Linked DNA regions of Homo sapiens. The protein of the gene in region 1 interacts with the protein of each later gene in a biochemical or structural test. Each region holds a gene or a part of one and is shown in the gene's direction. Other genes may lie near its edges.

Evidence for each region.
Region 2: the proteins of HTR2C (region 1) and HTRA1 interact in a test that uses a peptide from one of them, tested with the Homo sapiens proteins (one large-scale study listed by IntAct).
Region 3: the proteins of HTR2C (region 1) and TJP3 interact in a test that uses a peptide from one of them, tested with the Homo sapiens proteins (one large-scale study listed by IntAct).
Region 4: the proteins of HTR2C (region 1) and ARHGEF12 interact in a test that uses a peptide from one of them, tested with the Homo sapiens proteins (one large-scale study listed by IntAct).
Region 5: the proteins of HTR2C (region 1) and DLG2 interact in a test that uses a peptide from one of them, tested with the Homo sapiens proteins (one large-scale study listed by IntAct).
Region 6: the proteins of HTR2C (region 1) and FRMPD3 interact in a test that uses a peptide from one of them, tested with the Homo sapiens proteins (one large-scale study listed by IntAct).
Region 7: the proteins of HTR2C (region 1) and MAGI1 interact in a test that uses a peptide from one of them, tested with the Homo sapiens proteins (one large-scale study listed by IntAct).

The regions. Positions count from the first base shown.
Region 1 is NC_000023.11:114,846,086-114,849,585, forward strand, and holds part of HTR2C (5-hydroxytryptamine receptor 2C isoform a precursor), read left to right. Parts: intron 1-1,917; coding exon 1,918-2,118; intron 2,119-3,500. UniProt on the Homo sapiens protein: G-protein coupled receptor for 5-hydroxytryptamine (serotonin).
Region 2 is NC_000010.11:122,464,553-122,468,052, forward strand, and holds part of HTRA1 (serine protease HTRA1 precursor), read left to right. Parts: intron 1-3,500. UniProt on the Homo sapiens protein: Serine protease with a variety of targets, including extracellular matrix proteins such as fibronectin. HTRA1-generated fibronectin fragments further induce synovial cells to up-regulate MMP1 and MMP3 production.
Region 3 is NC_000019.10:3,748,849-3,751,313, forward strand, and holds the end of TJP3 (tight junction protein ZO-3), read left to right. Parts: intron 1-1,289; coding exon 1,290-1,336; intron 1,337-1,733; coding exon 1,734-1,836; 3' UTR 1,837-1,965; downstream 1,966-2,465. Other genes in the region: APBA3 (amyloid-beta A4 precursor protein-binding family A member 3), read right to left, coding at 2,057-2,249, 2,341-2,465. UniProt on the Homo sapiens protein: TJP1, TJP2, and TJP3 are closely related scaffolding proteins that link tight junction (TJ) transmembrane proteins such as claudins, junctional adhesion molecules, and occludin to the actin cytoskeleton.
Region 4 is NC_000011.10:120,342,913-120,346,412, forward strand, and holds part of ARHGEF12 (rho guanine nucleotide exchange factor 12), read left to right. Parts: intron 1-3,500. UniProt on the Homo sapiens protein: May play a role in the regulation of RhoA GTPase by guanine nucleotide-binding alpha-12 (GNA12) and alpha-13 (GNA13). Acts as guanine nucleotide exchange factor (GEF) for RhoA GTPase and may act as GTPase-activating protein (GAP) for GNA12 and GNA13.
Region 5 is NC_000011.10:83,464,845-83,468,344, reverse strand, and holds part of DLG2 (disks large homolog 2), read left to right. Parts: intron 1-1,527; coding exon 1,528-1,637; intron 1,638-3,500. UniProt on the Homo sapiens protein: Required for perception of chronic pain through NMDA receptor signaling. Regulates surface expression of NMDA receptors in dorsal horn neurons of the spinal cord.
Region 6 is NC_000023.11:107,561,152-107,564,651, forward strand, and holds part of FRMPD3 (FERM and PDZ domain-containing protein 3), read left to right. Parts: intron 1-1,959; coding exon 1,960-2,049; intron 2,050-3,500.
Region 7 is NC_000003.12:65,381,419-65,384,918, reverse strand, and holds part of MAGI1 (membrane-associated guanylate kinase, WW and PDZ domain-containing protein 1), read left to right. Parts: intron 1-1,295; coding exon 1,296-1,387; intron 1,388-2,849; coding exon 2,850-3,042; intron 3,043-3,500. UniProt on the Homo sapiens protein: Plays a role in coupling actin fibers to cell junctions in endothelial cells, via its interaction with AMOTL2 and CDH5. May regulate acid-induced ASIC3 currents by modulating its expression at the cell surface.

The DNA.
Region 1 (3,500 bases):
ATGTAAAAATTTCTAAAAACACACATACTACCAAAAGTGACTCAAGGAGAAATAATCTGAAGAGTCATATAAAAAGTAACTACATTGAATCAGTGATCAAATACCTCTCAACAATGAAAGCTCAAGACAAGAAGTTTTCCTTTTGAATTTCACCGAACATTTCAAAAATTAACACCAATTCTTCTCAAACTCTTCTAAAAAATAGAAGATGAAGAAACATTTTGTAATATATTCTATTAGACTGGCATTATCTTAATATCAAAGCCAGCTAAAGACATTACAAGAAAATTATAGATTAGTATTGTTTATTAATATAAATGCAAAAGTCTTCAATAAAATACTAGCAAACTAAATTCAGCACCATATTATATACCCATTACTAAATGGGATTTATCTCAGGGATGCAAGAGGGATTCAACATACAGAAACTAATCAATGTAATGTATCACATTAATAGAATGAAGGTATGCAAACCACATGATTATGTCAATTGATGCAGAAAAAGCATTTGCAAAAGTCCATCACTTTTTTATGATAAAAAAATGTTCAACAAACTAGGAATAAAAGAAAATGTCCTTGACAGGCATTTATAAAAAACAAAAACAAAACCCAGTCAATAGTGAAAGACTGATTTTCCTCTAAGATCAGGGAAAAAAGGCAGAATGCCCAACTTCATTAGTTCTATTTATCATGGTACTGAAAATTCCATGTAGAGAAATTAGGCAAAGAGAGGAAATAAAAGGCAGAGGAAAATTGGAAAAGAATAAATCAAATTATTTCTATTTGCAGAAGACATGATCTTATATATGGAAAATCCCAAAGAGTCAACACAAAACATAGCTCTAATAAATGAATTCAGCAAAGTTGCAGGACATTTGTAGTTCTATACACAGTGATGAACAATCCATGAAAGAATTTAAGAAAACAATTCTATTTACAACAGCTTCCAAAAAAACCTCAATTGATAACAGCATCAGCCACAAAGAAGAATTAAGTATTGATACATGCTACGAAATAGATAAACCTCAAAAACATTAGCTAGGTGAAAGAAGCCAGACCCAAAAAGTCACAAATTGTATGATTCTATTTATATGAAATATCCAAATTAGTTAAATCCATAGACTGGATTAAGAAAATGTGGCACATATACACCATGGAATACTATGCAGCCATAAAAAATGATGAGTTCATGTCCTTTGTAGGGACATGGATGAAATTGGAAATCATCATTCTCAGTAAACTATCGCAAGGACAAAAAACCAAACACTGCATGTTCTCACTCATAGGTGGGAATTGAACAATGAGAACACATGGACACAGGAAGGGGAACATCACACTCTGGGGACTGTTGTGGGGTGGGGGGAGGGGGGAGGGGTAGCATTAGGATATATACCTAATGCTAAATGACGAGTTAATGGGTGCAGCACACCAGCATAGCACATGTATACATATGTAACTAACCTGCACATTGTGCACATGTACCCTAAAACTTAAAGTATAATAATAATTAAAAAAAAAAGATAAAAAGCAAATTAGAGATTGCCAGGAGCTGGTTGATGGGAGAATGGGAAGTAACTGCTTAACGGTATGCAGTTTCCTTTTGGAGTGATGAAATGTTTCTGAACTAGAGACAGATGCTAGTTGCACAATATTGTGAATGTACTAGATGCCATTGGATTGTACACTTTAAAGAGATTAATTTTATGTTGTGTAAATTTTACCTCAATAAAATATATGTCACGCTGAAGGTATCATTATCATGATCACCATCATCATCCCTATAGAAAATAATGCTTCCTAAATTTCACTTTCTTTAAAAGGTTTAGATTATGAGAAAATATAAGCAGACTAAAATTTGAGACTATAGTCAGTACAATTTGGATGACGTGTTCTTGTCTTCTCTCTGTTCTCTTTCAGATTATGTCTGGCCACTACCTAGATATTTGTGCCCCGTCTGGATTTCTTTAGATGTTTTATTTTCAACAGCGTCCATCATGCACCTCTGCGCTATATCGCTGGATCGGTATGTAGCAATACGTAATCCTATTGAGCATAGCCGTTTCAATTCGCGGACTAAGGCCATCATGAAGATTGCTATTGTTTGGGCAATTTCTATAGGTAAATAAAACTTTTTGGCCATAAGAATTGCAGCGGCTATGCTCAATACTTTCGGATTATGTACTGTGAACAACGTACAGACGTCGACTGGTAACATTTGCGTTTGATCGGGTTCTTTTATTTAGTAATTATTCTTAACCTATTTATCTGATATTTAGGTTAACAATAATGAAAGGAATGTAATGTGTATTAATATGTAAATATAAAGTTTCCATTTATGCTGCTAAATTATTTTATGCATTAGTATGCCAATGAATTCTGCAACACAGATACAAAATGTTTGAAATATTTAAAATGCTTTGAAAATGAGAAAGACATAAAGTCTAATTAAAGTCTAAATTTTAAAAATATAACATTTCAATCTTATATTGAAAAGTTACATGTATCCCAGAATATTAACCTTAGTATTTTTATTCTAAATTCCTATCCTTTTCAGTAGAAAAATTAATAATGCAATCTAAATCATCATCAAGTAAATATGTCTAAATTTTTGTTGCTATGACACCTAAAATGTACTATTTTCTCTCAGTTTTAATTGTCTTCTTGAATTCTGGGTATACAAAAAGAAAAAAAAATTTGTTTCTTTAAAGATTTGTAGCAGTTTAAAGGGAAAGAAATGATCATTTATTGCTTATATTTGAGGTATTCATAAATGCCTTAACAGTGCTAATATTAAAGCCAAGAAATTTAAACAATTGGACTTTAGGGGTTTTACTTTCATGTTTTTTTCCTTTTCCAGTTGGTGTAAATAATTTTTCTTCATATTTATGTTTTTGTAAAGATTGAGGTAAAGTGTGCAACAAGATCAAGACTTCTATTTAATCTTCACTAATATCATCTAAATATTTTGACTCTGGGTTTATTGATCAAATACATTTAAGTTTTAAGATTGTTCTATTGTAGATTGTTCTGCCTGTGTATAGCATAGACACCTTTGAATAAAAAGTCGTGAAGCTTGTCCCAAAAGACAAAAATGAATTTACGTAAGTTTGACTTACAAATTCAAGAGTTCACAGATTTTGCCCTAGCCATCACAAAGAGTTCATCTAAAAAGATGCCAGCTTTTATGGTGCTTACAAAGGAAATACACAGACAGAATATTGTTGCATCAGCTTCTAGTAATGAAAGACTGAGTAATTTGCAATGACTCTTGTGCTAAAGGCAAATAAACACATGGATAAAACACTAAAAGCCCTAAGAAGCTAATGAAATAGAAATTGCTATTGGCTAAGATCCAGAAAAAGACAAAAACCCAAGAAAAATGATTATGACTTCTAGTTCACTTTTGCCAATGATGCATTATAAACCTGAAGATATGACTGACAGGTGGAGACGATCATTTCAGACTCGCAAGCAATGGAGGACTAGAGTAGGAATACAGA
Region 2 (3,500 bases), on another chromosome or scaffold:
TGAATGAATGAAGACAAACGGGAGGTGCTTGCGATACACAGCCATTCTGTTTTTCCTTAGTGGAAGGCACTGCTTTGCTGCGCCCCCTCTCTGGATCTCACACTCCACCCTTGACTTTTCGGAGGTGTTTCCGAGGACAGGCGCCTGGGAGCCAGCAGACTTCATTCAGTCCAAGCCAGGCTCCAGGACTCAACAGCTGGTGCCCACGGGCAGGTCACTTGACGTCACTGTTAAATGAGGTGAATTGGCTGCCTGCTCTGGCTGGAAGATTGGCGGGAGAGTCACTTTAGCTGCCATGGACATGAGCCTTTTCTAGGGGTGCCACTTGACTAGAGGCCTGGAGTTGGAGCAAGTCATACACGGATCTGGAGACAGAGCTCTCGAGGCAGGAGCGGGTGCTGCGATTTCAAATATTATAAGGTGGCTTTGTCTGGGGCAGAGCATGCCAGGGGATGAGAGGTAGAAATGTCATCAGATCAGGGGTCCCCAGGGAGGTGACTAGCACTTTGGGTCACAGTAGATCTTTGGATAGAGGAACATGTCACCATTCAAAGGAAAGCACTTTCATCTGTAAGCTGTTTATTGAATAGACCTCAGAGAACATCTCTGCTCACCGCTCTGGAAATGAAGGCAAATCATCTATTTCAGAAGTCAATGCACTGGCAGGGTTTGGATGGGAAAGTATACAATTCAGCTAGAGAACAAAGATCTGTCATCTCCAGCTGTACTGGTCAGATGATTACAAAAAAGAAAGGAATTGAAATACTAATAGGGTACTAATAATGAGGGCTAACATATATGTTGTGCTTATTCTATGCCGGGTGCATACTAATTCATTTGATCCTCCGGACAGTCCTATGAGTGAGTGCTGTAGTCTTCCCTGGGTTACAGCTGGGCAGCTAAGTCACAGAGAAGTACCTTGCTCAGGACTGGTGGTCCCACACAACTGGATGGAGAGCCTCGTTCATAACCACCATGCTGTGCTGTTGACAGAGCAACAGAGATTTTAAACCAACCCCAGCTAAGCCCCAGCTAATAGCTGAAATAAACAGGGCTCCAGATGGCTGTGGCTTAGAGATGGAACAGGACAGATCACAGCCTTCACTCTGCAGGCTCAGGAGCCTGAAGACAAGGTTGCCTCCAGTTGCCGTCAGTGCAGCCCTCACTAAAGAAAAGCAAAAAGAGCCGAGGGACTGTAGGAAGGCTGTTTCCAAGCCAGAGATCCAGACAAACTGCTCTTGAAGAGAGAAAGCCCTTCCAGATTCCCCCATGTCCCAAAAGACCAGCCGGGATTCCGGACCTCTGCTAAAACATGGACAAGAAGCCAGGAACGAGACCTGAAACAGACTTCCCAAACAGCAGAAGCCTCATCCATTTCTCCTGCTAGTACATCCTCCAGGAAAGCCCACCCTACTCCATGCAGCAGCCCAGACAAGCTTGGAGGTCTGCAAGCTGCAGGGGTGCCCAGAAACTCCACCCCTGGAGGTTTTTAGGATCGCCTGCTCCTGGTCTCACCCCAGAGCCTCTAAAGGCAGAGGCTGTATGTACATACCTGGTGAAGAACCAAGGGCTTAGATGGTTGCTTTACTTCTTGGAGCCCTGGAATGTTTGTAAAATTTACTTTTTTTTTTGAGACAGTGTCTCGTTCTGTCGCCTACGCTGGAGTGCAGTGGCGCGATCTCGGCTCACTGCAAGCTCCACCTCCCGGGTTCATGCCATTCTCCTGCCTTAGCCTCCAGAGTAGCTGGGACTACAGGCACCCGCCACCACGCCCAGCTAATTTTTTTGTATTTTTTGGTAGAGACGGGGTTTCACCGTGTTAGCCAGGATGGTCTCCATCTCCTGACCTTGTGATCCGCCCGCTTTGGCCTCCCAAAGTGCTGGGATTACAGGAGTGAGCCACTGCACCCGTGCCAAAATGTACTTTATTTAGGTGACTCTTTCGTGGGAACCTCAAACAAGCAATCATTGCTAGCTGAGTGCTGACCCTGTACTGAGCTCTGGGGAGACAGGGTTGAATAAAACAAAGTCACTGCCCACAGGTAACTTATATTCAATACAATGGGGGAAAATACAATCACTGCTTCCCTGGGGTTGTATTTTTCCATTGTTAAAGTGGGCAGTTTGCTCGAGAGTCATTTTCACTATTGGCAATTCAAATACACCTTTTGTCAGTTAAAAAACAAGTGTGCCAGGGACCTGAGCTTCATCTTAGGGCAGGGTGGGTGGAAACATTTGTGAGTCTCCAGCTTTTAGTCACCTGAAACTTGGAAACTTGGAGGTCTTTTGAGCAGTTTATGAGTCTCTGCCTGCTCTGGTCGGCTGCCTTCTTTTATTGCTCTGTTGGTTTTGCTAAAGAGTTAAAATATTAAGGCTTCATAAAATTAGGAAGTTAACAAGCTCAAAAACCAAGTGTTTGAGTTACTTCATTCCACTGAGAGAGCTGTAAATGGGTTGCATTGGAACTTAAAATAACTGCATTGAGTAAGTGATGGTGGCGGGCACCATGAGCTAACTGTGGTCAGAAGCCTGATGGCCTCCGCTTTGGGGCTGGATTCTCCGTTTGGAGCTGTGTGATCCTGGATGAGTTTCATGCCTTGGATTCAGAAATCAGACTTTCCATGAGCTTATATTTCAAGTGAATAAATAGCTCTGGTCAGGCTTAATTTGAAGAAGAAGTAAGCTTGGCAGTGGGTGAGGGTTCCTTGGAAGGCCAACTGGGGCGGAGGGGCTGAGGGCAAGCGGCTCTGGCCCTTCCTGGGGTGTTACCTGACCAGGTAACAGCTCCCTCGACCTCTCGGAGCCTCGGCAGTGAGGGGATTGGGCCAGTTGATCTCTGAGGCTCCTTTTAACTAGAATGGTCTGGGATTTTTCTAAGAAAACAAGTCTTTGAGGAGGTTGTGGTCACCTCATTCCTAATTTAAAGCCTGGGGAGGCTTCCTTATGAGCTACTTCTTTTTCCTAAATTATTGATGGTTAAAGCCAAGGCTGGCATCGAATAGATGTGATCCATCTTGAGCCTGGTTGCTTTGTGTTTCAGCTTTGTACTGGCTGCTGAAGTCCCCGGGAGACCACAGGGGTGACATGTTCATCTCCAAGAGATGAGCTTCCACGAGACTCATACCCCTTGCTCCTTCCCTGGGGCTCCAAGGCCTTTGGGTCATCTGAAGTGAGATACCCTTGTGTCATTTCATCTTTTCCTTCTCCACCTTCTCTGCCGTTAAAAAAAAAAGAAGAAAGAGAAAAATCCTATTAATAGAGAAACCGAGAAGTGTAGCCATTCTGAATGTGTTTCCAAAAGGCTCCTGGAAGTGGCATGGAAGTTACAGTGATTCAGCACTACTTGGTGACGTGTGCCTAGAACCACAGGGGGACATTAGCCAGGACAACACGCCTCAGGACAGAAGTAAGTGGCTGCGAAGAGGCATGTCCATCACTGCCGGAAAGATGCAGAGTTCAGTTTTTGGAGTCAGTGCTGAGAGTTCCATTTCTAAATTCAT
Region 3 (2,465 bases), on another chromosome or scaffold:
TTTTTTTTTTTTTTTTTTTTTTTTTTTTGAGTTAGAGTCTCGCTCTGTCACCCAGGCTGGAGTGCAGTGGCACGATCTGGGCTCACTGCAACCTCGGCCTCCTGTGTTCAAGCGTTTCTCCTCCCTCAGACTCCCAGGTAGCTGGGATTACAGGTGAGCACCACCATGCCCAGCTAATTTTTTTTTTTTTTTAAGGTATTCTTAGTAGAGACAGGGTTTCACCACGCTGGCCAGGCTGGTCTCCGATTCCTGACCTCAGGTGATCCACGTCGGCCTCTCAGAGTGTTGGGATTAGAGGCGTGAGCCACCGCACCTGGCCTCCAGCCAACATTTTAACCTCTCTGTGCACCTGTTTCCTCATCTAGGACACAGGGTGGATGGTATCAGACTTGGTGGCACAGGGCGGTGGTGAGCACTCAATGTGCTCAGCCCAAGTTTTGGCACATAGTAGTTGCGTGTCTTTTTGAACTTGACCTATCTAATTTATATATTTTATTTTTTAAATTTTAGAGATAGGGTCTTGCCCTGCTGCCCAGGCTGGAGTGCAGTAGTACAATCATAGTTCGTTGCGGCCTCCAACTCCTGAGCTAAAGGGAGCCTCTCATCTCAGCCTCCGGAGTAGCTGGGACCACAGGCGCGCACCACCACCCACACCCAGCTAATTTTTTTTCATTTTTTGCAGAGATGTGGTCTTGCTATGTTGCCCAGGCTGGTCTCTAACTCCTGGGCTCAAGTGATCCTCCTGCCTTGGCATCTCAAAGTGCTGGGAGTACAGGCGTGAACCACAGCGCCCAGCTGTAGTTGGGTGTTTAACAGTAACAAATGTGTATGTAGCTCTTAGTGTATATGCCTCAGCATCTTCTTCCACACCCTCTCTAGGTCAATGTAAAAATCTATGAATCAATGACATCTCTGATTAGAGTGATTTTCCTGGGGTTGTGCAGTACCCAACCTGCTCAACTGTCCATGGCAGGCTGCATACGGAGCAGCCACTGTACTAAGTCCTTTACGTACATGAACTCATGGCTGTGGCCCTGTGAGGACTTGCACAGATGAGAAACCCAATTCCCCTTTTGCTGACAGGCTAGGAGGTCTCAGCTAAGGCCTTCCCCTATCCCAGCCTCAGTTTTCTCATTTAGATTTGGGGATGACCTGCAGACTTGTCACGGGGTTAGCAAGTGGGCAGCATGGCCCGGGCCAAGGTGGGGGATGGGATGGAGGTGGTTATTGATCTCGACTCACCATGCTCTGGGGGGAGTTTTGAAGCTCCTCTCTCCCTCTCCTCCAAGGTGGACAGCCGCCACCCCCAGGGACAGTGGCGACAGGACAGCATGCGGTAAGAACCCCATATTCCAGATTGGGGCCCTCAACCCTTCCCTTGGGACTCAGACTCTGCGGACTCAGATCTAGATCCAAGCTATGCCTTCATGGTGCCCCTAGCCTAGTGGGGAAGACAGAGCCTGCCAGAGCCTCTCTAAGCCCCATATAATCAGGGCCAAGGGAGTAGGAATCCACTTCCTGGGAGGCCTAGGAAGGCTTCTTGAAGGGCAGGATATTGCAGCTGGGGCTTTGAGGGATGCATAGGAGTTTGTTAACAAGGCCCTACCCATGAATGCCCAGATGTGCTTATCTCTGCCCACACCCACTGTGCCTAGCACAGCCAGCCTCAGTTTATGGTGAGAAAGCTCACACCCTTCCCACCCACAGCATCTATTCTATTTCCTGATCCCCAGAACCTATGAACGGGAAGCCCTGAAGAAAAAGTTTATGCGAGTACATGATGCGGAGTCCTCCGATGAAGACGGCTATGACTGGGGTCCGGCCACTGACCTGTGACCTCTCGAAGGCTGCCAGCTGGTCCGTCCTCCTTCTCCCTCCCTGGGGCTGGGACTCAGTTTCCCATACAGAACCCACAACCTTACCTCCCTCCGCCTGGTCTTTAATAAACAGAGTATTTTCACAGCACCGGCTTCTAGTGGCTTCCAGGAAGGACAAGGTCCTCGGTCCCGTAGACCCTGATCCGAGACTTTGCCAAATGCATAAGCTTTTACTGTTTTTATATTAGGAAATCATACAGGACCAAGAACCGCTGGGGTCCTGGCCAGCCAGGGCAGGCCCAGGATGGGGCTCCGGGGCCATGGAGGCGAAGGCACAGTGGCAGGCAAGGGATGAGGTGGTCACAGGTACACGGGCTGCTCCTGGCCTGTAAGGAGGCGATATGTGGCAGCTGGCATCGTCTTGATATGCACCTGGGGAGTGGAGGCGGAACGGGGCTCAGGGCAGGCCTGGGCTCGTGGGGGACGTGGGGGCGCCCCTGGCCACCACCCACCACCCGCACACCTCGCCATAGGCCTCGGTGAGCAGCTCGATGATGCGGGCGTGTGGCGTGGCCACCACACTCTGCCCATTGATCTCAATGATGCGGTGGCCGACGCGGATGCCCCCACGCTCGGCGATGCCACCAC
Region 4 (3,500 bases), on another chromosome or scaffold:
GAAGTTGTTTCTTATTTTTTCCAGTGGTTTTTCAGTTCGTTATCTTAAATTGTAGGTCAAAACATTCCTCGATGTTTGGTTTATTTTTACCTTATTGTTTTGTCTCCTCTTATTTCCACATGTTAGTGAAATAACAATGCTTAGCAGTATTTTTTTTTTCAGTAAAATGGATATTGTGAAAATTGAAATATTTTACTTTCTTGCTGTTGTATTTACAAGAATTGTTAATGACAAGACAGTGTAACAGAAAAAGTGCATATTTAGATTATTATAAAATCTGTAAGACTGTAGACCTTTTGAATACTTTATTAGCATATTTTCTTTAGTACTATTTTAGTTTCAAATTATTGAGATAGATGTCCTTGTTTTGTATTTTGCTAATATTAATATTTTGTATTTTGGTAATACTAAAATTTGCAAACATGCCAAATTTAGAGCATTTTACTTTTTCAACTTAGAATATCTGGAATCATCAAGATAGTCATATAGGGAAGACCGCTATAAGACAGCTTCTAACTCCAATAGAAGCCTATGAAGCTAGTGCCTGGTCAGAGGCTGTGCCTAAATTGCATGAGTATATAGTGTCGACTTTTAGTAAAAGAAAAAATACACTAACTTTACCTCTTGAATTAGCATGCACCAATGCAGTTTAGATTCATACCGAAACAGGATCTTTTACTAATTCAAATGCTGAGTCCTGGTTTTTGAGATCACAGTCACATGACAGGCCTGGGTGGCTTCTCAGTGTCTAGAGACAAGCAAATCTACTGGCCAATGAAAAGTAGGTTTCCTGTCTTGGACTGCAAGTAACAATTCATGCAGAAATTGGAACTATATAAGAGAGCCTGGTTTTAGTTAATGCTTTCAATTAGCTGCTTGTCACACTGCTTTTTCTTTTGGTGTTATATAACACATTAGAGTCATTTAAAGGTACACTCTGATACTACAGTTTTTGTCAAATATTACATATAAATGTTGATTTTACATTCATATACTCAAAAGATCAAAGAGGACTTTGTAGATCTTTTATGGATTCAAAAAAATGTAGATTATTTTGTTGTAGAAAAACTGGCCAGGCGCGGTGGCTCATGCCTGTAAATCCCAGCACTTTGGAAGGCTGAGGTGGGCGGATCACTTGAGGTCAAGAGTTCAAGACTAGCCTGGTCAGCATGGTGAAACCCTGTCTCTATTAAAAATACAAAAATGAGCCGGACCAGGTGGCACATGCCTGTAATCCCAGCTACTCGGGAGGCTAAGACAGGAGAATCACTTGAACCCGGGAGGCGGAGGTTGCAGTTAGCCAAGATTGCACCACTGCACTCCTACCTGGATGACAGAGCAAGACTCCGTCTCAAAAAAAAAAAAAAAAAAAAAAAAAAAAACTGGAGACTTCATCAGCCTCTGAAGGAATGATACCTGAAATTGATCTTGTAATGCAGAAAGTGGCTATATGTTATCCAGAAGAGTAACAGATACCCCAAATACACTTGCTAACACAAGAAATCCTGTGAAGGTGCTTAGACATACCCTTCCATAGATTTTAGATGGGTTATCTGCCTATGTTCCAGACACAAGCCGATATGTTGTGGTTTGCCCAGTACAGTCTCTGTGGTTTACTGAGAGGAAGTGGTTCTTGTGGGTGAAGGTCTGATCTTTTCAGAGATTGTTGGTGGCATATGCACTGTCAGCCTATTTCCTGTTTTATTGGCTGTTTAGCAAGACCTTCTTAGGGCAAGTGCTGCTGAAGAGGTATTTAAATATTTTGTATTGGCAGGATAGATGGTTATAATGATGTATTATTATATCACTACTTCTCAGGTGATATGAGAGTTAAATGAATGTTTGTGAAGTGCTTTGAGATCTTAGGATGAAAAGTACAGACATGTTCTTAGTCATTTGCAGGTTACTGCTATGTTCAGATATTGCTCTCTTGAAGTTAAAACTTGTTCATGTAGTAAAGTGTTACTCTATTAAACTTGATTTCTGTAACCATTCAAGTGTTGTTTTATCACCACAAGAGTCATGATTAGAATTTTTCCCCTTTTTTTCCTTTCTTTCAATGCTCCTTTATGATTTTACCCTAGAAGAGTTTCCTTAATAGATTCCTTGCTCTAGTACTGGTTAAGGCATATTTACCAAACTTAACACCTAGCAAGCTTGTCCAACCTGCCTTATTTTGCTGTTGTTCTTCTGTTTTGTTTTGTTTTAGGCTTTCAGCAGCCTGAAGCCATGGTTTTTAGTTTCTGTCTCTAGTGATAAAACGGAAAGAGGGATGAGGAAGGGGCTTTACTGGCCCATCCAGAAACAGAAACTAAGAACCCATGACTGTATTCTCTCCCTTGAACAACTGTAACTAGAGCAAACCTCTTTGCCAATTTAACTGGCATACTAAAATAATGAAATTGTGAGAATTTCCTTTGAGATTAGTAACTGTACCATCCATATACAAAACACTATATTGCTTTGCTGAAACCTGAAAGTGAGCAAACTGATAGAAATGCATATAACAGGCCGGGCGTAGTGGCTCACGCCTGTAATCCCAGCACTTTGGGAGACCGAGGTGGGCGGTTCAGGAGGTCAGGAGATCAAGACCATTCTGGCTAACACGGTGAAACCCCGTCTCTGCTAAAAATAGAAAAAATTAGCCGAGTGTGGTGGCGGGTGCCTGTAGTCCCAGCTGCTGGGGAGGCTGAGGCAGGAGAATGGCATGAACCCAGGAGGTGGAGCTTGCAGTGAGCCGAGATCGCGCCACTGCACTCCAGCCTGGGCACAGAGCGAGACTCCGTCTCAAAAAAAAAAAAAAAAAAAACGAAATGGCGTATGTCATACTCCTAAATATATATATATATACAGTATTTAGCCTTGGACGTTAAAAAAATTAACAATGAATGGGGGAAGGCTTTATTTAAAGCTAAATTGTTAGCTAATACGTGAGTTCTTCAAGGGTATAAGAATAGTTCTTATTCATTTTTAAGTAATTATCGGTAGCCTTATTATATTTTTATTTTTTAATACTGAAAAGCAGAAGGAAGAAAAATAAATGGCCCAAATGATCCAACTACCCAGATGTTGCTGCTCAGGTTAAACGCACACACGCATACACACACAGAAAATTCAAATCATATAAAATGGTATAAAAAAAAGTATTCCTACACACCTGTTAGTTTTCATACCTTCTCCTCATAGGTAACAATAGTTAATTTTTTTGGTTTATCTTCTGAAACATTTAAAAATATATACCAGCCTATAATTTTATTTTTTGCACCTACTCCATAATAAGTGTATCTGTCTTCTTTTGCTAGGTTATGCTGCTGTAGCAACACTATCAAATTTCAGTGGCTTACAACACTGCTTTTCTTCTTGCTTATGCTACACCTTGTCAGCTGTGGATTGACTGCAGCATTGCTTCACGTTTCTTATTTTGGAACCCTGGCTCAAGGAGCATCCCCTGTCTGGGCTGTGCCATTATTGTGGATGAGGGAGAGAGCAAGAAAACAGAT
Region 5 (3,500 bases), on another chromosome or scaffold:
ACCAGCATTTATACATGTTATGTGGCTGCTGCACTTCACAGATAGAAAACTTGAAATCTATTACCTAAGTAATAACGGCTTGAACCATCTTAGTGGGTTTCTCAGATAAGAAGACTTCAAGTATTCACTGGACTGTATTCATTTTCATGTGAACATTATAGATGAGATTTTAGCCCTTATTATTGATTTAGTATTGTTCCTATCTGCATAAAGTGCCTTTTTTCTCTTCTTGCATAAAGTTATTCTAGCCTCAGGGTAATGAGGACATTTCTCTCCAGGAGGTAGAATATGATGTGGCAAATGTATCTGCATATCCAGAAATGCTTTATAAAGCAGCTGCTTGCTCTGAGCACTCATTGTGGTGGAAGCCAAGTTAAATGAGGTGTGCTATAATGTAATAGCATTTTTATTTGTTAACAAACAAGAAATTTACATACCTCATGCAAGCCTTTCTCTCTTGGCATTTAACCCGCATTTAATTTATATATATATATATATATATGTTTTAATTATATATTTTATATGTGTGTGTGTATATATATATATATATATATATATATATATATATATATACATATAGTTTTTATTTTTTTTGAGATGGCATTTCACTCTTATTGCCCAGGCTGGAATGCCATGGCACGGTCTCAGCTCACTGCAACCTCCACCTCCTGGGTTCAAGTGATTCTCCTGCCTCAGCCTCTCAAGTAGCTGGGATTACAGGTGCCCACCACCATGCCTGGTGAACTTTTTGGATTTTTAGCAGAGACAGGGTCTCACCATTTTGGTCAGGCTGGTCTCGAACTCCTGATCTCAGGTGATCCACCCGCCTCGGCCTCCTAGAGTGCTAGGATTACAGCCATGAGCCACTGCACCCAACCAACCATATGTTTAAGTTAACCATTTTTGTGTCTGCCCTCCACTAGACTGAGTACCTTGCAGACAGGATATGTACAAGTACTTGGAAAAATTCACATTATTCTCAATCTTCCACACCGAATGTTGGGCAGGGTGAGACAATGAGGTGTCTATTTTTTCCAACCAACAATTCTGTTAGTGCTCCAGACTTGGGTTTGCATGCTCCTAGCACTAAACTATTGGGCAAGTTAGTTAGTGTGAGTCTTCTGTAAAATGCAGCTGATAATACCTACCTCAGAGATTTGGGAATTTCTTCTGACAATTGTGTTCAGAGATGGTTTTTAAACTTCATGAGAACAGACTCAGTCACATAACATACGGCTGCATGTCATCTTTGTGTGTTACATCAGGTATTTAACTGAGAGAACATATGTAAAATGTCCAGTCCAGTAGCAGACACTTTGTAAGGGGCTAGTTAGTATTAGTTATTGTAAACACTCAATGATGACCCTATATATCGATTTTTATTTACTCTTTGCAGTGATCTTTTTCTGACTTTAGAAATCCAGCATCCCCTACCTTCCTCTAAAACCTACATACATTAGTTTCCTTTTGTTGGATTATGGCCATGCTTCCTATATTAACTTCATATTTTTCTTCTCTTTCTACCAGGGCAAACACTGTATACTTGATGTATCAGGAAATGCTATCAAGCGGTTACAAGTTGCCCAGCTCTATCCCATTGCCATCTTCATAAAACCCAGGTCTCTGGAACCTCTTATGTGAGTAGAGGGCATTGGAGGCCTTCATCCAACTGACTCCCTGTTCTGTATTATACTGAAAATTACTAACAGGATTTTGCTGGGAATGCTTACAAATGGGAAATGCCATTGTTGATTTTTCAGCATTCTCTTTTTTTGAAGATATATCAAAGTTCTTTTAAACAACTAGAAACATAATGTCAGTGATTTCTTTTTTTAACATCCCTCATTTTAACAATAATAGTAATTCCTTAAAACATCTTCAATAATGTTTCCTGATTTTTATTGTTTTACTTCACGGATTGTTTTCTTTGTTAGTTTTTGAGGTTTTGTTGTTGTTGTTTTGAGGATAGCTTGGCTTGATTTGGTTTTTTGGTTTGCTTTTGTTTTCCAAATGATAGGAAGCAATCATTTTTTAATTGTCTCATACTTCTGAGGCAGGTCTATAAGTAAATCTTTTTAAATGTGTAGATTTTTTATAGAGAGAGCAGACAACGTTTGAGACTTTTTTCATTGGCATTTTCCTTGGTTCTCTAATAGAATTCTGATGTTCCTTAATTAAAACTTTACATACATAGAACATCGTTCTTAATAGAGTTTTCTTAGTGGCGTGGCAGTAAAACATCTGTAACTTAAACCAGTAGCTTCATACCTGTGCACTCAGGGTTTTTTCTTTTTTTTTCCCCTCCAAAGGACTTGTGAAATAACTTCTTTCAAGAATCATTAAACAAAGTGGGCAGACATTCACGATCTGACTGTAAAGTCAGTATAGGCAACTCCCATTCACAAAGGTGAAGCTACAGTAGATAGAGGTAACCAGAAAAGGGGCTACCAGCAGGGACCTGAAAATTGATCAGGCAAGATTTGGTTCTTTACTTTGCCACTGATCAGTTAAGTAACCTTGGGCAAATTGCTTGACCTTTCTAAGATTTAGCTCCTCACCTCGAAACGAGGCATACTAATAAATACCTCATAGAGCTAGTATAAAGGTTAAATAACAAGATTAGGAATTTAGTAAAGCTGTTCATGTACTCTTTGGCATATGGTAAGTACTCAATAAATAATACCTATTATTATTGTAAAAGATATAAAATTACTTCATTATAAAGGAATAAAACTATTTTATCATTATAAAACACATAAACAGTACCTCTTCCATGACAGTGCAAGAGATAATGCCAATGTGTCTGTCATGAGGGCCTTGATCAAATTTTGCCTTCATCTGGGCCTCAAGACCATAGTGTTTGACAGGGTTCAGGAGTGAACCACAGAGTACTGGAAAATAATGTTTATGGAAGGACCGAAGAAACAGAAATTATTTAATCCCAGTGGTGAAAGCAATTGCTTACAGAGGATATTAACTGTTCTGTGTCTCCTCTGAAGACAAAGAAGCAAAGCAAACTGCAGCAGCTGGAGTGGCAGCCTGAGAGAATTAAGTTAAATACATAGTTGAGCTCTGGGGAAATAGCCAGAGATGTACCTTGAAAGCAGAATATAGTCCCATATATAAAAAATGGACAAGGATTCTTACCAGGATAAAAAAAGTAAGATCGGGAGGTCACTGACAGTACCTTCAGCCCCATGAATTTAGGTATTAAATTATAATATAAAGAGTTTTTCCCATGGCTGGCACATGGAAAAATATGTACTAATGATAAAATAATGATTCTTAATATTATCATCCCCAATAGCATGTATTAAATTTCTCCTTGTATAGGATACTATGTCGGGCATTGCACAAAGTGAATTAAGCAAGTACAAATTTCATGATGTAAAATTGATTTATAATCTGTCAAGAGCCTCATAAATATAAGTAATGCTAACATTAATGAGAAGAAAAATAGTCCTTACTTCCTGGGAACAGCCATCTTAAAGGCCTGTTTC
Region 6 (3,500 bases), 7.3 Mb from region 1:
CTGAGCATGTATCATGTGGAAAGCACTGGACCCTAGGGAGGCACATGTTTTCCATGGAAATGACTAGGCTGGTGTGGTGGCTCATGCCTGTAATCCCAGCGCTTTGGGAGGCCAAAGCAGGAAGATCACTTGAGCCCAGGAGTTTGAGACCAGTCTGGGCAACATAGTGAGACAGCGTCTTTACTTTTAAAAAAATAATTTAAAAAAAATGTAAAAAAAGGAAATGTACCTCTGTACCTCTAATTCATCAGTCCTAGGGTGTGGAATTCTGGGAGACAAAACCCCAGCCCAGGGGAAAGTGGGAGAGTTGGGGGCACAAGACCTGACCTGGAGAATGGGTCACTGGGTGGAATGGTGAGGGATCAGGTTACTGCCTCCACTTTCTAGTGCTCTGAGGGACTCCCACTGTCTGCTTTCCCAAGCCCCGCAGCAGCTTCTTAGCTTTGTAAGATTCAATCTGCCTGTGCTTCCTGCCCTAGAAGCAGGAGAGTGGTGAGACGCACTAGAATCAGCATGCAGATGTACATATGGGACGCAATCGCCCCATACATTCCTCCCATTCCAGATTTCTTGCATTACCAACTAGCTTCTCTTTTAAGATGCAAATTTCCCCGGAGAGTTAAGCCATTCCCACCTTGCTGTGAATATTTAATCAGATTGTTTTCTTCTCAACTGAGAGCATCAGTGCTCACCACCATCTCCTCAGGTAACATTTTTTTCGAGGCACCCCAGTGCTTGGGTTGGAAATATGAAGATGAAGAGGGCCTGGTCTTGGCCCCTGAGTCAGGCACAGTCTAATGGGGAAACACATTAGTCAGTCCCAACACAGTGCATTAGGCACAGGTGCTCTGGAAGCACAGAGGAAGAACACTAAGCCCAGCCTGAGGGAGGTGGAAAAGGCCAGAGCTGGGTCTTGAAAGACAGATAAGAGTTTGTCTAGATTAATCCGTGGGCATGGGTCATGGGAGGAAGTGTTTCCCAGGCAGAGAGATCCATCTGTACAAAGGCCCAGAGATATGAGAAACCATGGTGCAAGGACAGAAATGCAAATCATTCAGCCTAAGCAAGTACAGAAAATGCAAGCTGTGTGCAAGGGGTGAAGATAGGGGCAAGAGAAGAGGCCAGAGAGGTTGGCAGGAGCCAGTTCATGGAGGGCCTTGTGTGCCAAGGAAAGAGGTTGTACTTCATCCTCTAGGCAGCTGGGAGCCATTGAAGGGTTTAAAGCAGGGAGCTGATGTGATTAAACTTATGTTTTAGGATGCTCCCTCTAACAGTGTGGAGGCACTTGAGGGAAAGAGGGAAACAAGTGTCAGTCCTGAAGGTAACCTGGCTGTCACCCTGACACAGGTGGGAATGTCAAGGCAATGACTGGCTAGAGAAGAGGGATGGATAGATTGGAAAAGGAGCTAGGGGGTAAGTATCCAGATGATCTGGTAACTGCTGGCTCTCACATGAGGCGATTAAGGAGGAGTCCAGTGTGACTCACAGGTTTCTGGCTTGATTGCCCAGGGGATGCTGATATAGACCAGGAATGCCTGAAGTGCAGGCTTGGGACTTAGGAATGCTTAGTATGAACGGTATTGAGTGGGACCCCCAGCTGGGGAATGACCAGCATGTACATGACTCTAGGGGTCTGAAACATCTCAGGAGAGAGGTATGGATTAGGTGGGGCGTCAGTTAGTTGGAATTAAACCAAAAACAAAATGAGTAAGCTGGATACTTTAGGAATGAAGATCAGGAGGTAGGACAAGATTTTAGAAAGGGAGATGAGATACTAGAGGGAAGAGCTGTCCAAACTAGAACCTTGCTGCTGTTTTAAGAAGGGCATCTTCACATCTCCACAGTGTCACTTGCTGACTGGTGCCTGTCCTAGGATGTTGAGACTCCTCGTTGAGAACATGGGTTTGCTTTTCCTGTGCCCCTCAGGCTTCTCATATTTCTGGATGGGTTTTTCCACAGGGCTCTGCAATTCAGGCAAAGCTCCAGTATCTACGAATTCTGAATGAACTTCCTACCTTCACGGGCGTTTTGTTCAACACTGTAGGCCTGGTCAGTGGCGCAGGATTGGGGGATGTGGGGAGGGAGCCCCTTGTTGGCTCTTGTCCTTGGGTGTGGGGGCAGGAGGGGCAAATATTTCTAAAGGCCTTCGTTCCTCTTCCTCCTCCTTCTACCTCTTACCTCCCTGGCCCTGCCTCTGCCAAAATGATAAAGTGGGAGGAGATATTTGTTTTGAGTATCCCTCCATGACCTTTTTTTGTTCCTCTTCCTCGATTTGGGGGCGCAGCATACTTTTTCCATAAAGGGCCAGATAGTAAATATTTTAGGTTTTGCAGGCGGGCCATACTGGCAACTGTGGCAACTACTCAGCCCTGCTGTCAGATTATGAAAGCAGCCACAGACAATGCATAAACAAATGGGTGTGGCTGTTTACCAATAATTATTTATGGATACGAAAATTTGAATTTCATGTACTTTTCACATGTCACAAAACATGCCTCTTCTGATTTTTTTTCCCTACCATTAAAAAATCTAAAAACCATTCTTAGCTCCTGGGCCATAAAAAATAGGTGGTGGGTGGTATTTGGCCCATGGGCCATGGTTAGGCAACCCCTGCTCTATTTCATTTTTGTTCCACATACTCCCACAGTCCCCTACCCTAGGTTTCCTGAGTCCTTCTACTTCTCCCCCTGCTTGCTCAGCACCTTTGCTGCAGGAACAAGGCTCTGGGGCAGGGCACAGCTGGTCCCACCCTAAGACTGTGCCCCAGGCTAGTTTACCCTGGTGAAAGGAAATTCAAATCACCTTGCTAATTGGATCCAGGTGCTTGTCTTGCTCCCAGGAGCACATTGTCAGCTAGTGCGGCACATCGGTGGAAAGCCACTTATCAAAGTGCCTATAGACAGGCACAAGAGGTTCCTCAGGGTGATGCTAATACCAGGGAATGGGCCTCCAGACGACCCAAGCTTGATTGCTCCAAGGAATCTGTCAAGACCTCTTAAGGGAATCCAGTCCTTCAGGCCGAGAGGTAGCCATTTACATACTGGGATTTGCAGAACACTGAAAGCCCACTGTCCCCTCCCACCTCCTTCATACACTGTCAAATCTTTCTTCCACCCACCTACCACTGCTAAAATTTCTATTGGCCATACCTGCTGGAGTGCCCATTAAAAGGCAAATCTCTGCTTAACGAGGGAGGCTGCCATGAAGTACCCAATCAACCCTCAACACCTTAGGCAGAGTTACTGTGCCAGTTTAGTTTTTGGCCTGGGTGAGAAGTGCAAGTTTGAGTGGCTGTTGGTGGGGGGAGGGTAAAGACCAGACACAGGATGCCGCCTTCTCAGGCAGAGCACTGGGTGGGGGCCTCAAATGGCCTGCAGCAACAAATGGAAAGCCCCTGGGGCTTGGAAGGGGAGGGTGCTCCAAAGGCCCCCAAACAAACCTCACCTACTTCACGGTTTTGCTTGAGCTAGCCCTTCTGCCTGTGCACTTTACTCAACCTG
Region 7 (3,500 bases), on another chromosome or scaffold:
CCCCTCAGTGTCTGCTGGGGATTGGTTTCAGGACACCCGCATCCCCCACCAAGGATATAAAAATCCATGGATGCTTAAATCCCTAGAAAATAGCCTAATATTTGTGTGTAACACACACACACACACACACACACACACCCCTTCCTATATTATTTATTTGTTTGTTTGTTGTTTGTTTATTTATTTGAGACAGGGTCTTACTCTGTCACCCAGGCTGGAGTGCACTGGGGCAATCATGGCTCACTGCAGTCTCAACCTCCCTGGCTCAAGTGATTCTCCCACCTCAGCTCCCGAATAGCTAGGAGTACAGGCACACACCACCATACCTGGCTCATTTTTTATTTTTTGTAGAGACAAGGTCTCACTATGTTGCCCAGACTTGAATGCCTGGGCTCAAGCGATTCGCCTGCCTTGGCCTCCCAAAGTGCTGGGAGTGCCACTGTGAGCCACTGCACCCCACCTCCTATATACTTTAAATCATCTCTACATTACTTATGACATCTAATACAATGCAAATGCCATGTAAATAGTTGTGATACTGTATTACTTAGGGAATAACGAGAAGAAAAAAATCTGTACGTATTCATCACAGCTAAAACCATTGTAGGTCTAACAAATTTTCTATCTGTGATTGGTTGAATCTAAGGATGCAGAACCCACAGATATGGAGGACTGACTGTATGCAGAAATACTAGGATGTTTTAGAGTAATTTTTGGCAAAAATGATCTAACAAAGCCTATTAGCATTGCTAGCCTTAATTATTTTAAGGAAGAAGAAAGTGACTTAAAGATAAATCAGAAAGTCTGTTTAAACCAAGCTGTTCTCTTTCATCCTCTAGTAGAGGAAACATCTGGTGACTTAACATGACTTCCGAATCCTTAGATCTGGCTTCAGAGGTGACTCTGACTTAGCCTGAGTGTTCTTGGACATGGACACCTGCTTTGTGGTGTGGCACATAATAATTTTAATTTACTTAATTCTCCTTGCAAGAATACTGAGGAAAGCAGTTAATGCTGACTATTTGTAGTTAAGGATCATGGCTTGGGCTTGATTCGGAATTATCAAACAGTGATGGGTCCTGTGAAGAACTTTAGGGCTCAGTGACTATTCCCACTGTTTATCCCCGTGTCTTCCATTATTTCACCTGTTCAGAGTATTTTGTTTCTTTGCCTATATTGAAAATCTTCCATCTGATCAAGCACCACCATTCTTGTCCTGCAACTGTGTTCATCTTGGGGGTATCATTGCTTTTATCAGTAAAATAATCCTTCTCTTTTTTCTCCCCTCTCTGCAGTTCCAGATTACCAGGAACAGGACATCTTCCTCTGGAGAAAAGAGACTGGATTTGGATTTAGGATTCTGGGTGGAAATGAACCAGGGGAACCTGTGAGTCTTTTGCTTGTCTCTCTTCCCAGCATATTTTTCTAAGGCTTCAAAGCAAATTGGCGACAGTGACAAATCACCAAGATTTAAGTCCAGCTAGATGCAACACTGACTCTTTAATCTTGAGTAGTGTGGGTTTCTCATTGGGTTTTGTGGAGCTCTCTTTGTCTTGAGGAAGAAGAGACTAGATTCTTTCTAAAAAGTTTGTATGAGTGTTTGTGAAAGGTGGGAGCTGCCTCTGTAGACCACCCCTTTTCCCCCAAGGGAGATGAAAACAGAAAGCAAAACAGGAATAGGCATCACCTAATATCACAGTGGCCTGGTCCTTCTGGCCAGGTCCCTTCACTCTGCCAGCAGGTAGTAGGCTTTGTATGTTGAGTTGCTGGTGTGCAGAGAGTACTTCGCAAAGCCTTATGAGACAGTGATTGGAGAATGTCAGACCCCTGCCTTTACAAAACTTGAGAAAGAACCCTGAGTAAGGGTCAAGAAACATTGAACTTCCCTGGGCCTCAGTGTCCTCCATTTTGGAATAAATTTAGAATAACATAACAGGGTTCCTTTGAAGGAAGAAAAGAAAACTGAAATAGGTATCGTTAATTTCCTTGTGGTAATAACAGCCATTATTCATCGAGCGCTTACTATGTGCCAGGTTCTGTGCTAAAGGCTCTTAACATACATTCTCTCATTTATCCGTCAAACCCACCAGTTTATCCCGTTTTCACATCAAGGAAAAGAAAGGCTAACTAACTTGCCCAAGATCGCAGAGCTACCAAATGGAGGGACTGACAAATAAGGTCTGACTCGAGTTCATGTTCTTAGCAACTATTTTGTCAAAGTTCTTTGTAAACTATAAATGCCACGTAAAGGTAGCTATAGCATTATTGTCTGCTGGAAAGGCAAGGCAGGCACAAATATTTTAGCTAAGGTTTAGTGAATGGCAAATATAACAGCAAGACACTAACTATAAAGAGTGCTCTGCTTTCGGGTGCTAAAAGACTTCAAAAATGGAGATGTCCAACCAACTTTTGCTTCATTCATTCATTTAAGAGTATTTATTACAGATTCCCTATTCCTAGGCATGATGCTAGACCCTTAAATAAAAGTAATATTAATATTTTAATTAGCAGAGTTTTATGGAAAGAGAGTTTTTAGGTAGCTACCAAAGAAGAATAGGGTATATAATGAAGGGAGAAAAGTAATTTATATCTGCAAAGGGGAAAAAGAGAGTGAGTCATCAATAGGCCACAGATAAACATCTGGAAACTAAGCAAGAAATACTCTTTCCACCATTTAAGAATTGTTGCAGTGCTTAGCACAATGTCTTGTACACAGTGGGTGCTCAATAAATGTTTGCGGCATGCCTGCAGACATGAATGAATGAATTGTTCCCAGAGATGTGAAGGCTATTGATGTAACAGTAAACATAGGAGAGCAATGTTTCATCCATCGTTCAATTACTCAACAGATTTATATTGGTCACATCGTACCACTGGGTGCTGCTGATACTGACGGCCGCCTGAGGTCTGGAGATGAATTAATCTGTGTGGATGGGACGCCAGTAATTGGAAAATCACACCAGCTTGTGGTCCAGCTTATGCAACAAGCTGCCAAGCAAGGCCACGTCAATCTCACGGTGCGGCGTAAAGTGGTTTTTGCGGGTATGTATTTCATTCATTCCTTCAGACAGTGCGTTGTCACTTTATTCACAGAAAAGGCCTCCTTCCTGTGTCTGCCTCCTTGAGCGTCTATTTTAGCAAATGTTTGCAAATGTGATCAAGCTCAGAATTTCCAGATGGCTTGCTTCTCTCAAACCCTGCAAAAATTACTGTCATTCTAAAGTACTTTAATGTGCCGTTTGCATGTGTTCAACAAAGGCTTCCAGAGGAAGGCTAGTTGAATATATATTACTTCCCTTCTATCTCCTTGCAAATCAGAACTTAGCCATCCTCTTCATTTGATGCTAATCCTCAGCAAATGAGGTCATTATGAAAGTCAGAAGAGTTGTAGCTTCATATCAAGGGAACAAAAATCGGGTTTGTGCTACAAAATAAGCTCATAAAAAAGTTACTGATTTCTTACTGTCCTATGTATTAAACCAAGATTTTTTTTTTTTCTT